Linked DNA regions of Homo sapiens. The protein of the gene in region 2 interacts with the protein of the main gene of each other region in a pairwise test. Each region holds a gene or a part of one and is shown on either strand. Other genes may lie near its edges.

Evidence for each region.
Region 1: the proteins of KIAA1549 (region 2) and CADPS interact in a two-hybrid assay, tested with the Homo sapiens proteins (one study listed by BioGRID and IntAct).

The regions. Positions count from the first base shown.
Region 1 is NC_000003.12:62,753,417-62,760,416, forward strand, and holds part of CADPS (calcium-dependent secretion activator 1), read right to left. Parts: intron 358-7,000; coding exon 25-357; intron 1-24.
Region 2 is NC_000007.14:138,864,213-138,874,698, forward strand, and holds part of KIAA1549 (UPF0606 protein KIAA1549), read right to left. Parts: intron 7,151-10,486; coding exon 6,945-7,150; intron 5,550-6,944; coding exon 5,326-5,549; intron 3,917-5,325; coding exon 3,763-3,916; intron 1-3,762. UniProt on the Homo sapiens protein: May play a role in photoreceptor function.

The DNA.
Region 1 (7,000 bases), on a different chromosome or scaffold from region 2:
AGGCCCAGGCGAGAAACACCTTACCTGGCAGGCATTGTAAAGGAGCTGATGTTCGAACTTCTTGATCCCAAGAATGTTCTGGAACATCTCATAGAGTTGCTCCTTGCTCAGAATCAGCTCGGAGGCTGCGCTGGCTGTCATCCGGGCCTGCTGCTTCCGCGGGTCCTCTTCTCCACGGTAGATGGCATCAAATTTGGCCATCCAGGAGCTCAGCACAGTCTCCTTGCTGAGGCCGTCAATCTCAGGCAGGCTGCGCACTCTCTTCTCAATGTGCTTCTTGAAGACCTCCCGGGAGTCGTTGGCGGAACAGCCTCCACTCTGAACCATGCGGGCCACACGGTCGCTCTTCAGGAACACCTGAGCAAGAACAAGGCCAGGAAAGACAGTAGGAGAGTTTACCACAGAGGTACCAGTTCCCTGGGGCTGGACACTGGGCCAGTCCACCTCACGTGCATCCCAGGAGGAACCACTGTGGGTCTCACCCTGCCCCACCACCTCCTGGCTGTGCAAACTCAGAGTAGTCTCTTACACATTCTGCTTCTGTGTCCACATCTGTAAGATGAGAATAACAATTGTACTTACCAGGTTGGTGCAAGGATTAAATGAGATGATACTATCATGAGAGGCAGCACATGGTATACAGACCTGTGCCCGGGCTGCATAGGTTCTCTGCCCCTTAGTGGCTGTGGGACTTTGGGCAAGTTAACCTCTTTGTACCTCAGTGTTTCCATTTATAAAATGGGGATAATAGTATTTATTTAATGTTTAATTTCTTTTTGAGATAGTCTTGCTCTGTCACCTAGGCTGGACTATAGTGACAATCACAGCTCACTGTAACCTCCACCTCCCAGGCTCAAGCGACCTCCAGCTTCAGCCTCCTGAGTAGCTGGGACTAAGTGCATGCCACCACACCTGGCTATTTATTTATTTATTTATTTATTTTGTATTTTTGGTACATACAGGGTTTCACCATGTTGCCCAGGCTGGTCTCAAACTCTTGGGCTCAAGCAACCCATCCACCTCGGCCTCCAAAAGTGCTGGGATTACAGGCATGAGTCAATGCACCCAGAATTTAATTTTTTATTTTAAATAGAGGCAGGACTTTGCTCTGTTATGTAAGCCAGACTTCAGTAGTGATCACGATGCACTGCAGCCTCAAACTCCTGGGCTCAAGCCATCCTCCTGCCTCAGCCCCTCAAGTAACTGGGACTATAGGTGTGTGCCAATATGCCTCGATAATTTTTTAAACTTTTTGTAGAGACAGGGTCTTGCTGTGTTGCCTAGGCCAGTATGTATTTTAAAATGAGGATTAAATGTGTTAATGTGTAAAACACACATAAAATAGTGCCTGGCCCATGTTACACTTGTTGCTGTTATTATTATTATATGTAAAGTGCCTGGCATGATATCAGGCACATAGCATTAAACATTAACCACTATTTGTACCTCCTTTTATCCCTTCAATGATACTTTTAATTGAAAGTATACAAGTATCAGGTAAACATATATTTAATTTTCTCTCTTCCTTCCTGAAATGTAAACTCTACTTGGGCAAGGAACGTGTCCTTCTTGTTCCTCACAATGTCTTCAGGTCCTAGAATGTCTTCAGCACCTGACACTTTAAAAGTGAATTAACAATGAATATAGGTGTTAGGTTAAGTTTATTTTGTAGATGAAAAACTGAGACTTCAGAGAGGGGAAGGGACTTCCTTTTGGTAGCTCAAATTGTCTGACTACCAATGGGTAGTCTTTTTACTTCACCCGGGTTCCTTCCTTCCCTGCAGGGTTCTCCTGCTTGATGAAAACCTCTCCCCCCTGGTGGAAAATCCCTGGTTGGTCTGCTGGTGCTACCTGGTTGAGTCCTGGGACCAAGACTTCTTCTATTAAGAAAGTCTTATTTTTGCTCCACTGCCCACCATTCGGAAGCTTACATGAGCTACATGGTTCTGGGGTGTAATACAAGGCAGTGAAGCCGCCGCTTCATATTCACGGAGAGGAAGCATCTGACACGTTTGAGCTGCGTCCTGGTCACACTTCAGAAGGTGCATAAATATCCTTCAAGAGGCAGAGCAAATGTTCATTCCCCTGTCAGATTTCAGGAAATGCACTTGTTGGCCATGAGACAGCACTGCCTGGGGGCATCTCATTGCCTCATGCTTCATCACAAAGCGTTTCTGGGGTGGAGAGATGTTTTTTTTTAAAAAGGCTCCGGTTTATTGTTGACTTTAATGAACTAATTTAGAAAGGATGGCTGAGGGTTTGCCTCACAGGGTAGAGGCCATGGCCTGCTTCCTTATGAGTGGGAACTGGTACTCAGATGAGACCTTAGAGTTAATTTGAAAATTAATTATAGACAAAATAGTTTCAAATGAATCCTCAGGCCTTATGAGCCTTAATGAGCTAAATAATTCATCTGCAAACCTGTAACACTTAATGGGGATGGTTTCTCCATCTAACCAACACATTATAGATCTCAAATACCAGTGTTTTGAGGCTAGTGGAGGAAGTCTCTGGAAAGGCAATGGAGCATTGTGGCAGGAGCTGTAACTCATGATCTCAGGCCAGGTCTGCCTCTAACTTGCTGTGTGACCTTGAGTAAATCATCTCCCCTCTCTGATTCTCTAATTTCTTTTTCTTTTTCTTTTTTTTTTTTTTGAGACAGAATCTCACTTTGTTGCCCAGGCTGAAGTACAGTGGTGCGATCTTGGCTCACTCAACCTCTGCCTCCTGGGTTCAAGCGATTCTCCTGCCTCAGACTCCCAAGTAGATGGGATTACAGGCATCTGCCACCATCCCCAGCTAATTTTTGTATCATTATTATGTTTTTAGTAGTAGTGACGGGGTTTCTCCATGTAGGCCAGGCTGGTCTCCAATTCCTGACCTCAAGTGATACACCCGCCTGGGCTTCCCAAAGAGTTGGGATTACAGGCGTGAGCCACCATGCCTGGCCTGATTCTCCAATTTCTTATCCATACACCAAAGGAATTGAACAATAAGGTTTGGGGCTATCCTTTTAACTGTAATGATTATAAACTTTTCCATGAACCCATTCATCCTTTCTTTGGTTACTCTCTAGGTGGAAGACACTGTACCAGGTGTCAGGAATACAACGGTGAGGAAGACACAGATTTAGCTCTCATGGAGTCCAACTGACATAATCCTAATAATGCCATGCAAATATGATTACGATCTGGAACAAGTGCTATCAAGACAAGGGTCCACAAGAACCTATAGCTAGGAATCTATTCTAATATGTGGTCAAGAAAGCCTTCCTGAAAGAAAACACCTTTGAGATGATGCATGAAAGATGGATAGGTGAATGGAGAGCTGTAATTTATTTTAGAGAGAAGGAACAATACGTGTGAAGACCCCAAGTGCCTGAAGAAATAAGGAGGAGTCAGTGTGGCTGTGGCAATGAGGGCTGGGGGTGACAGATGTAAGATGGGCAGGGAGGGGCCAGAGAGTCCAGGGAGGCATTGAGAAGGAGGAGGTATTCAGGAGGAGGAGGGGATTAGGGTTGTTGGTCTTCATTTTAAGGGCATTGGAAAGCCATTGAAAGTTTTAAGCTGGGACACGGCACAAACCAGTTCACATTCTTTGGCTTTAATGTGGAAAAGAGACTGATGAAGGGAGCCAAGAAAATAGGCAGGGAGGCCAGTTGAGAGGTGCTTGTACGAGACCGGGTGAGTGTGATGGCAGTGGGGACACTAAGGGGTTAAGCCTTTGTTGTCAGTGCTAATAAACATAAGGGGTGACTTGAAAACATTCAATCAACAATGAAGCTATATTCTCCTCTACATCTATGCACATTAGTATCCCACAAACCCGAAATGGGCCTCAGTTATAAGCTCTCAGCCCCAGATTCTTTTTTCCTAAAGCCCTTCCACAGCTGCCATCTGCCACTGTTTTTGTGACTGTTTGGTAAATATCTGATCTCCAGCTAGACTATAAGTTCCAGGGAGGCAGGGTAGTCGTTGTTTGTTTCTATTACTGCTTCTTAGTGCCTGAGACAGTGCCTGGCATGTAGCTGGTGCTCAGTAAATATTTGTGGAATGAGTGAATGAACTATAAGAGCAAAGCAGACTCCTCTAGCAGGAAAAATATGGAGCGAGACTATGTCTGGATTGGGGCGAGAAGGTCAACGGGAAACCAGCACACGGTATATTGGTCTCTTAAAACAAGAGACTTAGGCTAGATTTTCCATGGGGCCTGATAACAAGGGGTAAGAAATAAAGATGTTGGCACTTGGGTCCCAGCTGGTGTAACTGGTTGAGTGATGTATTAGTCTGTTCTCACGCAGCTAATAAAGACATACCCAAGACTGGGTAATTTGTGAAGGAAAGAGATTTAATGGATTCACAGTTCCACATGGCTGGGGAGGCCTCACAATCATGGTGGAAGTCAAGGGAGGAGCAAAGGCACGTCTTATGTGGCATGGCAGCAGGCAAGAGAGCATGTGCATGGGAACTCGCCTTTATAAAACCATCAGATATCTTGAGACTTATTCACTATCAAGAGAACAGCATGGGAAAGACCTGCTCCCATGATTCAATTACCTCTCACTGGGTACCCCCATGACACGTGGGAATTATGGGAGCTACAATTCAAGATGAGATTTGAGTGGGGACAAAGCCAAACCATATCAGGTGAACCCTGAATCCTGGGCATAGCATCTGCTTCACTAGCCCCTTCCTTTGTACATAGTAGCTACTCAATAAATACTTCTGAATTACCAGTGGAAGACAAGTCACCTAACCTCCATCAGTCTCACTCTCCTTCATGGTAAACAATGAAGGAATCCAGCCTTTCTTCTTTGCTGAGGATCAAACTGAGAAGACTTTGAAAAGTGGAGGGATCTATCTGTCCTGTGTTAAGATACAACTGCCAGATCCCAGAAAGAGGAGAGATGAGTGGAATGATAAGAACATGGAGGAAAGAGGCCAAAGACTGGGGAGACAGTAAAGATGAATTGCCCAATGGAGACAAGACAGCCATGAGGAGAGAAGGTGGCAGCAGGAAACTATTTCTACAGGCACATCATCTGTCTTGGCTTCTCAGTCTGACAAAGAGGAAGTGGGGCCTGGGCCAGCCTCACCCTATAATGAATACAAACACTAAGTACTGATGTGCCTGTGTGTCTCTAAAACAACTATTCAAACTCAATTGTGCTGGGAGCTCTGTCTGTATTTTGTATCCGTGTTTGTTTCTGTTTTTGCTTTTTAGTGGCTGCCACAAGAGACTTTAACCCCAAGCCCAGTTCTATCTGGGCACATCCATAAATCCTCCCTGCTTTTCTGCCAACTTCCAGACAGGTCATAATGAGAGATGGAAGATAAACAAATAAATATGGAATTGTGAAGGACAGTCAATTCAGCAACTCGACCTCATCCATCAGTCCTTCCCTCCATCACCAGAGCCAAGCAACCTCAAGGTCATTTTAGAAACATACAAACACATCAGTACTTAGTGACTGTTCACATTACAGATGAGGTTGGCCTAGCTCCCATTTGCTAGCTGATAAGCTGAGAAGCCACAGCAGATTCATTCCTGTTCTGAAAAAGCATATCCTTTCAATATAAATAAGAAAAACATCTAGATGTTGGAGTAAGTAAGGTTTGCAAGAAACACACACCTCGTTGCTATTAATAAATGGGCACATAAATAATGAAAGGGGTAGACATCATGGTTAGGAGGATGGGCCCTGGTATTAGAACACCTGGGTTCAAATCCTGGCTCTGTTGCTTGCTAGCTTTGCCACCTGAGCAAGTTACTTAATCTTCCTGGGCTTTAATTTCCTCACCTTTAAGATGGGAGTTATAACAACCTTCCTTTGTAGGATTTTGGTGATCCCTGAATCCTGATTCAGTGATATTATGCCTGCAAGTTGGTTAGCCTGTTGCCTACTATTCGGCTAAGAATGTAATACAAGTTAGCTGTTATTTTTAAATAGAATATCATGCAGCCATGAAAAAAGATATATATTTTTTCATTACCATCCAAAGATGTCCATGATATATGGTTATAATGGACCAGAGCCTTCCAATGGCAGGGGTGAGGTGGGATTGGAGGATAGGAACATGGCTCTGGATTTAGAATACCATAGGAAATAAGACAGTTTACTGATGAGAGTATGCCATTTGTGTGACCTTTGGAAAGGTAGGAAGGAGACTGAAAACAACTGTGTTAAATAAAAGAAGTGGGTCCTTAATAGTTTGTGGTAATTTCCCACCTTAATATGCAAGCCAAATAGTTATCTTGACATGCATAGATACATTGAAAGTACCTGGAAAGATAGAAACCAAAGTTTAATTTTGGTTATCTAGGATGATGGGATTGCAAGTATTTTTTAACCATGTAAATGCAGAGATTTTTCTACATTGTCTGTTTTATTTTTATAGTGGGCATGTTTTACTTTCACGGTCATTTGAAACACATCTTTTCTACCTGGAAAAATACAAATTTTACCTTCTTTGAGGCAAGGTGCATTTTCATTTCTAAAATAAAATGTATTTTCAAATCTTAAAAATCTTCTTCACCAAAAAGTAAAGGATTCTGGGCAAAGTTTCAGAAGCAGATCTTGGGCCATGACCTTGTGGTAGGTGGTGCTAGATTAGGAGCAAAAGTACTTTCCCTTTTCTTTTCTATGCCCTTTTCCCCTGCTCCATCTTGCACCTCCCTTCCTCCATGCCCAGGGAGTGAATTGATTCTATCAACTTTCAACTCTCTTCTTCTATTTCTATGCAGCATATGGACACCATACCACCATGCTCATTTCTAACCTTAATATATTAATATATTCTAACCTTAATATATTAATAATGGAACTGTCCAGGTATATATATTCTCATTTAGTCTTGAGAGCAATTAGGCAAGGAAGGTCCTATTAAAGATGAAGCAACTAAGGCTCAGACATAGCTGAGGTCCCAGAGTCAGTGTGTAACAGGACTAGAACTCAACCCACCTCTGTCGGACACAATTTTTATTTTTAATTTATTTAGAG
Region 2 (10,486 bases):
GAGATTCCACTGTGGGAAACGATCTCAGACATTTGAGCAGAGTCCCCAGCGGCTATAACCACTGCCAATCTCATTCTCAGTGGCCAGAATTTCAGAGAAGGCTAAACTTCTATACCGAGAGAGATGATCTGCAGATGGGAAGGACAGTCCCCTTGGATTCCCAATGGCCCCCGTGAATCCTGCCAGAAGGCCAGGAGCTCCTGGGCCAGGACACTTCCTCTTCCTGTCCTTCACCTTCTTGTTTTCTCCTCATTTTGCAGGCGAGACTATCAGAACTTGCAGGCCAAGAAGAGGATTTACTCAATTTCCTATATTCTACCATCTATATTTAGACTATAGATGTTTCACACATAGATGTGTTCAGATACAGTTTATCAGTCTTCAGAAATAAATGTACATCTTTTCACTGTTTACGGATTTTGGTGCCTATTTAGCAGTCCTTTGTGGGTGTTGCAAGAGGGTGACCAGACAGCCTGGTTGTCCAGGACAACCTCAGTTTATGCCTGTTGTCCCACGGTCATTATTAATAGAACACCCCCTTACACTTCCAAAAGTGTCTGGATTGGATGACAAATTACATCAAACTTTTTCTGTAAAGGGCCAGACAGTAAAGACTTTAGGTTTTATGAGTCATATAGTCTGTCACAACCACTCAACTCTGCCTTGCAGCAAAAACAGTCATTGATATCAAGCCAACAAATGGGTGCGGTTGTGTTGCAATAAAACTCTATTTAGGCCAGGTTTGGTGGCTCATGTCTATAATCCCAGAAATGTGGGAGGCCAAGGCAGGAGGATCGCTGAGCCCAGGAGTCTGAGACCAGCCTAGGCAACAAGGTGAAAGCCCATCTCTACTAAAAATACAAAAATTAGCCAGGCAAGGTGGCATGTGCCTGTAATCCCAGCTACTTGGGAGGCTTAGGTGGGAGGATCACCTGAGCTTGGGGAGGTTGAAGCTGCAGTGAGCCGTGATTGCACCACTGCACTCCAGCCTGGGCAACAGAGCTGGAGTGTCTCAAAAAAAAAAAGTTACTTACAAGAACAAGCAGCTGGCTGGATTTCTACCAAGGCCTGAATTATAATGGTCACCCTTATTACAAGGAACCAAGGAATATTTCTCTTGGCCTTAGGAGAACACACCGCTCAAGGAGAAGATATTTTTGAGGGGAAAGTGGAAAATTCAAGGTAATTCAAAAACACATAGTACTTCCCTAGTATAGGCTTGAAGATGAAAAAAAAAAACCCTGTACATGTACCACTGATTCTAAAATACAAGTTGAGGGAAAAAAAGATAAACTACCTAAGAAAAGATGAGTTCTGAGACAGGCATTATCTTTTAAAGTGTTTCAGAATTCAAAATCTGAGGAAGATTTTTATTTTGGGGCAATCTTTTAAAAAAGGAGCCACTGAAGGCAAGCAGCCTCTGGGGTGGTGTCTTCCAGGAAGAGGCTGCTCTGCACCCACAGGAGGAGGAATCCCTGCACTCTCTGCTAAGGAAAAAAGGAAGAAAACGATGCTGCAAAGCTACCGCAAAAGAAGGCTGATCTAGAGTCACTGAAGCAGGCAAATGAAGACAGCCAGGAGAAGACAGGTTCCTCCCCATACAAAACTCAATCATTTAAAAAAATCAAAGAGAGGGGGACTGAGAGGGTTCCCCACAAATTCCTTTGAGAGAGGAGCCCAGGTTGGCTGGAGAAGTGAAGGGACAAGAAGGGATGCTGCCCCTTCTATCTGTTTCACACCACAGCAAGTCTCCACTTGGCACAGTTTACAAAAGCTCCGGGTGACAACCCTGGGGAGCCCTCCCCAGATCAAGCCAAACCCCACAGATGCCCAAATACCCCCAGAACCCAACACAGCACAAGAGCACCACCTACTGTAAGAGCAGCCATGCACCACATTTAGAAAGTAACAGGAACTACTCAATTCCTCGTACTGAGGAAGACAGTAGTTTCATTTACAGACAGCCTAACTCTGAAATCGCACTGATCCCCATGAGTAGATCAAGAAGGTCGGTCTTTAAGACCCTAGAAATACCGTAAGTTCCTAAGGAAAAGTCTCATTCTTTCAGATGATCATAATTCAGTTGTATTTAGGCCCCATCCCAGTATAATGTTTGCACATTTGTGTAATTATATTTAGCCTATTTAAGTGCTTGTTATTTATATAATTTAGGAGAAAAATACAAACCTCAACTAAGAAATGGCTGGTTGCATAAGGTCTATCTAAAGCGATCACATCCATCGCAAATCCCTTCTCAAAGGCTGTGCTTTTTGCTAACGTGTCTCTAAACCAGGCTGGCTCTGTGAGTGCCTCCAGGAGGTGAAAGGGGCCTGCTGCAGCAAGGCAGGGCTCTCCTGGTATGGAGTTTAGGACGCCCTGTGTTTCCCAGTGCTGCCGGAGTTAGCGGCACCTGGCTCGCCCTCTCTGTCTTCGGGTATCTTTGTGTCTGTATTTCTCATGGGTTAAGTGAGGCTGGTTCTCTCTCCCCTACTCAATGCAGTCTGTGTGTATGCATCTTACGCTATCAATAACTGCCTTTAACACTTCAAGCAAATCTGTCTGGACCTCTTTTACTTTGGAAAAAAATAATCCCTTATTTATTTATTTAGAGACAGGGTTTTGCTCTGTCACCCAGGCTGGAGTGCAGTGGTGCGATCAAAGCTCACTGCAGCCTCGACCTCCTGGGCTGAAGCGATTCTCCCACCTCAGCCTCCCAAGTAGCTGGGATTACAGGCATGCACCACCACGCCTGGCTAATTTCTGTATTTTTTGGAGAGACGGGGTTTCGCTATATTGCCCAGGCTGGTCTCCAACACCTGGGCTCAAGCGATCCATCCACCTCAGCCTCCCAAAGTGCTGGCATTACAGGTCTGAGCCACCACTCATTATTTCTTAATTTCCATTAACCTCTTTCTCCCATAAAAGCAAAATATATATAAGCAAATACGCTATCTTCTTAGCACTCCAAGGACAGTACAGGGAAATAAAACCCTAAATATCCCTCCTCTCATTAGGAAACCCAGCCAGGCTAGCTCAGTCAGTAGAGTATGAGACTCTTGATCACAGGGTCATGCCCTCATACCTGTAATCCTAGCACTGTGGGAGGCCAAGGCGGGAGGATCACTTGAGGTCAGGAGTTTGAGACCAGCCTGGGCAACATGCTGAGACCCCATCTCTACAAAAATTTTTAAAATTAGCTGGGCATGGTGGCATATGCCTATGGTCCTAGCTACTCAGCAGACTGAGGTGGGAAAATTACTTGAGCCCAGGAGGCTGAGGCTACAGTGAGCCTGGATCACACCACTGCACTCCAGCCTGGGCAACAGAGTAAGACCCTGTCCCAAAAAAAAAAAATAATAAAAATAAACAACAAAACCAAATAACCCTCTGACTAGGGAGAAGGAAAAAAACCTTGAGGATATTTCTCTCTCTCTCTGTTTTCCAGTTAACCTCGAAAAAAGTCCCACTGTGAAGTCTGAGAGAACGGGGCTTACGTATAGAGAGGAAAAACACGGAGTGTGTTTCCAGAGGTGGCACTCGGCAGCACCCTGGCTGACAGCACTCAAGTCTCCCCTCAGAAGGGGTGGCACCCCACCCCACCCACTTCATGACCTAGAGGGCCCTGGTGCATCAGCCATCAGGCATCAGGCACTGATACCACACAGGGCGGCAGCCAGTGCTGCTGCTTCTCCTCCCCTTTCAGCGCATCTTTCTAGGAGCCGCCCCACCCGAGTTCCAGAAACTGGAGTCGGTGGCACGCACTGGGCATCCGATGTAGGCTGAGTTGTGGACGCCGGGGGGCCTCCTGTAGGTGCCATCGCTGTCTGTGGTGATGAGCCGGTCCTTCTCAGCGTCGGCAGGACAGCCGTTGACCTGGTGTTTCCGGCGAGGCTTGGGAGAACGTTTTATCCGTGAGCTGCCAGGAAAAAGAGAAATTATCTTCGTAGGAAATCACCCTTTTTGCCACTGACTTACCAACTAAACACTAAGTACCCTGAGTACCTAGGATGTGCTACCCCTGGAAACACCCCATAGGATATAAACGCCATGTACGAGACAGTCTCTGCTCTAAGGAAGCTCAGAGCATACCTAAACAGACCTATTAACCCACATGAAGCAACACAGAATGATATAAAGCCATTTGTAATCATGACATTCAGAAAAGAAGTCAGTGGGAGCTATTAGTCCCATGGGGCTAGAACTAGGTCTTTTTTATTTTATTATTCTTTTTTTGAGATGTAGTCTCATACCGTCGCCCAGGGTGGAGTGCAATGGCGTGATCTCGGCTCACTGCAACCTCCACTTCCCAGGTTGAAACAATTCTCCTGCCTCAGCCTCCTGAGTAGCTGGGATTACAGGCGCCTGCCACCACGCCCAATTAATTTTTGTATCTTTAGTAGAGACGGGGTTTCACCATATTGGCCAGGCTGGTGTTGAACTTCTAACTCCTGACCTCGTGATCCGCCTGCCTTGGCCTCCCAAAGTGCTGGAATTATAGGCGTGAGCCACCACGCCTGGCCCAGAACTAGGTCTTGAAGAGTGAATGGGACCTGAAGCCAGGGAGGATGTGGGAAGCAGGTGCCAGGGGCAGAAACGGCAGGCAGGTGAATGTTCAGGGGCTACCAGGCCGTCTCCTGGGTGGCAGTTCTGTCCGTGTGGCTGACCCGTGAAAAAGAGCTGGAGTGGAGGGGCAGGGCCGGCCTGCGACGGGAGCACAGGACCCACCTGGCAGGCAATAAGAGCCACCTCAGGTTTTGAGTAGAGAAAGACATACATGAGAGCCGTGTTTAAGGAAAACGCATCTATGTCGGGGACGGGAGTCTGGGAGACCAGGGGAAGGTAAGACCCCAGACCCTGCAGGCAGCTGTGAGAAAACCAACGAAGATCTGCTGGGTGCCAGCCTGGGTGGCTCCGGGAGATGAAAATATTGGAGGTGACAGAGTGGGAGGTGAGGAAGAGCCAAGGACACCACAGAAGGAGCCAGTGTGGGAAGGAAAGGGTGAGTGCAGTTTTAGACAGGCTGAATTGGAAGAGACAGATTAAGCCCCAGGAAATGCCCCGAGGCAGGCAGAGGGGCAGAGTTGAGAACAAAGCCAACGCCTCCCACACTAAGGTGACCCTCAGCCAGGGTAAGCCTTCCGAGTGGCCTCCACATCCTTCTGTGCATGAGCCCCTTCAACTGTCTTCAGAGACCTCCACGTGAACACGGATGGGGTCCTTCTGTCACAGGCCCTGCAGTAGCAGAGGGGCTCCTGTCCTGCTCCTGTGCCCCCCGCAGCACCTCTGCGCGCCCGCCCCACCGCCTAGCGCAGAGCCCCAGCCCACCTCTTCCTGGGCTCTATGAACACGGAGGGCACGCTGGCCGTGGGGTCCAGGATCTTGTCGATCTGCATCTGTGCCCTGCGGTACACCCGGTGTCGCTCCTTAGTGTCGCCCGAGGACAGGTCGTCTACCACCGGGAACTCGTAGTGCCCGCGGCGCTTGGCGCGCAGGCGGATCTTGTTGCGATGGTGCTCGATCTCAGACTTGTGCCGCAGCGCGGTCTGAATCTGAGGAAGGGTGAGGGAGAGAAAGACAGCCATAGAGGTCCCGGGAAGCTTCTGGGACACACACTTCGCAAAGTCTTTATTTATTTTTATGTTTATTTATTTATTTGAGACAGAGTCTCACTCTGTTGCCCAGGCTGGAGTGCAATGGCATGATCTCAGCTCGCTGCAACCTCCACTTCCCGGGTTCAAGTGATTCTCCTGTCTCAGCCTGCCGAGTAGCTGGGATTACAGACACGCACCATCATGCCCAGTTCATTTTTTGTACTTTTAGTAGAGATGGGGTTTCTCTATGTTGGCCAGGCTGGTCTCGAACTCCTGACCTGAAATGATACGCCCACATCAAGCTCCCAAAGTGCTGGGATTACAGGTGTGAGCCACCATGCCCAGCCAGCAAAGCCTTCTAGGAGCGCCTTCCTGCTATGCTCCTCTCCTCTGGCCCACACTTAACTTGCTGTCTGTAAGCTCCACGGAGTCACCGAGAGAGCGACAGGCACAGACCAGGGAGGAGCAGAGACCCTGCCATCCCACGAGCTTTACCCTCAAGCACTGTGTGGTGCACTGGAGTCTTGTCACCATCCCCCAAAGCAGGGAAAAAAAGTCACTCGAACCTTGGAAATCGGCCAATGACAACTTTAAAGAGACATCTGATAACCAGAAAAGAATATTTTCCTCCTTTAGAGATCTTTAATAAATAGGACTGACAGATATAAAGAGGATAATTACCTAGTGTCACCAAAACAAGTTACCTGACATGAGACCCCCTGCCCCCAGAGTGGTATCCCCAAAGACGGAAACCTGAACTGCGTTGAAGCGTGAGGAGGATCAGAAGCTGAAGTGGCTCTTTCTGAGGAGGGCAGCCCCTGGTCGGCCGCACTAACACTTTTCTGCATGTCTGCCAATGCGCCCCAGAGTGTCCATGCACAGTATCTGATCTCCAACAAGCGTGATGTTTTACATTAAGAATCCTTGTCAGCAGCTTATGCCTTCAGTAACTAGTTGACACTGTACCTTGCACTCATTTTCAAACACAGACCCAATAAGTGTGTGAGTTTTTTTTGTTTTTGTTTTTGTTTTGAGATGGAGTCTCACTCTGTCAACCAGGCTGGAGTGCAGTGGCGAGATCCCGGCTCAGTGCAAACTCCCCCTCCCGGGTTCAAGTGATTCTCCTGCCTCAGCCTCCTGAGCAGCTGGGATTACAGGAACCCGCCACCACGCCCAGCTAATTTTGTATTTTTAGTAGAGATGGCGTTTCACCATGTTGGCCAGGCTGGTCTCAAACTCCCGACCTCAGGCGATCTGCCTGCCTTGGCCCCCCCAAGTGCTGGGATTACAGGCATAAGCCACCGGGCTTAGCCGAGTTTTTTAAGTAACAGACTTTTAAATAAAAGCAAATACCTCTTTGTTGATTTTATTGCTTTCCGCCACTCGGTCGGCTGGGGAGGGGCGCTGGACGGGAGGTGCCGGGATCGGCTGCATGGCGATAAGCTGGATCTTACTGGGGACCCGCCGGCTAGCCTCCGGGGGGCGGGAGATCCTGTCCACGTGCTCGAAGATGGAGGCTGATGAGTGCTGCTCATTTCCCGAACTGGGCAGTGGTGGCCCTGGAACAGAAGGAAAAGCAAAACACATACACGAAGTCATCTAAAGAAACAGCAACTAATCAAAATTGTGAATTATTCTTTAAAGAATCTTTGGATGGGCCTCTGACCAAAAATACATCCCCACTGCAGTAGCAGAGTGTTTACAATTTCACTCTCTGAGCTTAAATAGTCTGGGCTATATACTGTATCCTCTAACTTCATTAAAAATTACAAGTACCCTAAGAAGAGACGTGAGGAAATCATTATGATACTGTGTGAAAAACTGCACTGTTTTGTCTGTGGTTCAAAATCTTCATTCAGAAAGAATATAGGACAGAAGGAGCCTGAAGTTGCTCAGTAGTCAATAAGCCATTCACAGAACTCTCAGAAAACACATTTATAGCGGCTCTGAACTATTGCTACCATCTGGCAGGGAGCTCGCTGGAGTGATACAAATTCAGCTGCCAAGGCAATGTCGTACTACAGAGAAAACAGAAGACCAGTACGTGCAGGCAGGTACCAGTTAACAGTGACCACACTTCTGACTTTTCAGTTCTGATGTGGAAAGAAAACGAAGTTGAAGACACATGAGAAGAAAAAACCTGTTGCTTGCAGGGAATTAGTTCCTACTTTATTTATTTTTTTAATTTATTTTTTATTTTTTTGAGACGGAGTCTCACTCTCTCGCCTAGGCTGGATAGTGATTCTCCTGCCTCAGCCTCCTGAGTAGCTGGAATTACAGGAGCATGCCACCATGCCTAGCTAACTTTTGTATTAATACTTTTAGTAGAGACAAGGTTTCACGATATTGTCCAAGTTGGTCTTGAACTCCTGACCTCAAGTGATCCACCTGCCTCGGCCTCCCAAAGTGCTGGGATTACAGGCAGGAGCCACCGGGCCCGGCGCTAGTTCCTACTTTAAAAACAGTTGAAGAGTACATGTATAAATGGTTACATGGCAAATTTTAGGCCATGTATATTCAACCACAATAATTTTCTTAAAAACTAATCAGAACTGTGAAAAAAAAAAAAAAGAAATTCAAATGCACAAAAAAAAAGACAGAAAAGAAACACTTAAAAATATTAACAGAGACTGAATCTTCACATGATGGGTGATTTTTCCCCATGTCTTTTATTTTTGATAATGAGGATTTTCTGTAATAAGTATTATTTTTACAGTAGAGATAATCCCAATACACTTTAATTTTGAAAAAAGAGAAAGAGAAAAATGAAGACGGGCTGAGTAGAAAGAGCTAGTTACTCACACTTAAGAAGATCAACTGGCCAGGCACAATGGCTCATGCCTGTCATCCCAGCACTTTGAGAGGCTGAGGCAAGAGGATTGCTTGAGCCCAGGAGTTTGAGACCAGCCTGGGCAACATAGTTAAGACCTTGTCTCTACAATTTTTTTTAATTAGTTGGGCGTGGTGGCACATGCCTGTAGTCCTAGTCACTCAGAAGGCTGAGGTGGGAGGATCCCTTAAGCCCAGGAGGTAGAGGGTGCAGTGAGCCGAGATCATGTCTCTACATTCCAGCCTGGGTGACAGAGTGAGACCCTGTCCCCCAACCCCCGCCAAAAAAAGATCAACTGATGCCCTTCTTCTAATCAGCCAGTCACTTCTGGATGTTGCTTTCAAATAAATGGCCAGCAGGCTGACAGAGGGAATACGCACATGCAGAAAGTGCTTCTAAACAAAAGCCTAACATTTGAAACTTCAAAGCATAAGTGAAAAACACAAAGGTCTCTCCTCGGTGTAAAAAACATAGATGAGCAAAGCAGTAAGAAGCAGTAGTTGATGTTTCATATAAGGAAAGCACAGCATTGCTATGTAAATCTGTATTTTCTCTCAATTTGAATTACATTCATTATCCCAAGCAATCAGAAGTCATTTGGCTGATTCTGAATGAATGATGTCTGTCTGAGCCAGAGGACACCATTGTCTGGACTCCAGCTATGCTCAAGCTTTCTTTCTTGGCCCCATACCTAGAAGGAACCTGACTATTTGTGCATTTGTGCAATGGAAGCACAGCCAGGCACCACCATTCATCGGTGGCAGCTACTCAAGTTGCAGGCATAATGCCTAAAAGGAGATCATGAGCTTCTCCAGACAGGCTAGCCCTGCTTAACCCAGACTTATAGAGTAACAATAAATGTCACAGAGGGTAGCCCATTAAGCTACTGATACCTAGAAGTGGGATCACTTTCCTCCAGGGTGGCAGAGACTTCTGGGTTGCTGGGAGACAAAGGTGACAGGCATTAAAAAAAAAAAAAAAAAAAGGCCCCTCCCTACTGGGCTGTCAGCCCTGCCTGGGTACCACTGGAGCAGCAGCCTAAGACTGGGCTCCTGTCCAGAGCCCGGCTCACCCCCTCCCACTGTAGTCACGGCCCTTGCTTCACCCTCGCTGAACTGTTCACAGACTGCAACCAGAGGAGGGGATGCACAAACCCTGGGCCACTCTACAGAGCTGAGGGACCAAGCGGAGGAGAGGAAATAAGAGGTGCAGAAAATCTTCCAGCTTCCATACTGCCCAGAAGCCAGTCCTTCAACATGGCTGAAAAGAGGGGCTTTAAATTTTTTTACATATACATATAATATATATCACACATATATATTATATAATTATATCACACATATTATATATTAGTATATATTTTTGTTTATAGAACTGTATATGTAATATATAATTAGTAATTAGTAATATATTACTATTAGTAATTATATATTACATACTTCTATATCATATATTAATAAATATAATTATATAATATATATTATTGTTTGCTATGCATTGCACAATTTTTCTAAAAAAGCTCCCTGGGTAATAATGATTAGTACAAAGCACAATGGACACACAGAGATTAATGCTGTGTGAATCCTGCCTTAAGGCTAGTAGGAACTTGGGATTAAAACCCCTTTCTCTTCAATTATTTTTTAAAAGTAATGATATAAATTTTACTATAGAGTCAAGATACCTATTGTACCTCATGGTAACTATAATCAATAACAATATATTGTATACTTGAAAACAGGTAAGAGAGTAGATTTTAAGTGTTATCACAAAAAATAAGTATGTGAGGTAATGTATATGTTAAATAGCTTGATTTAGCCATTTCACAATGCATACACATATCAAAACATCATCATTTAGCCACAAGAAAGAAGGAAATCCTGCCATTTGCAGCAATATGGCTGAGCTTGGATGACATTAAGTAAAATAGGCCAGGCACAGAAGGATAAACACTGCACTGTTCTCACTCATATGTGGAAGCTGGAAAGTTGATCTAGAAGTGGAGAGTAGACTAGAGGTTACTTGAGGCTGGGAAGGGAAGAGGAGGGACATAGACAAAAGCTGGTTA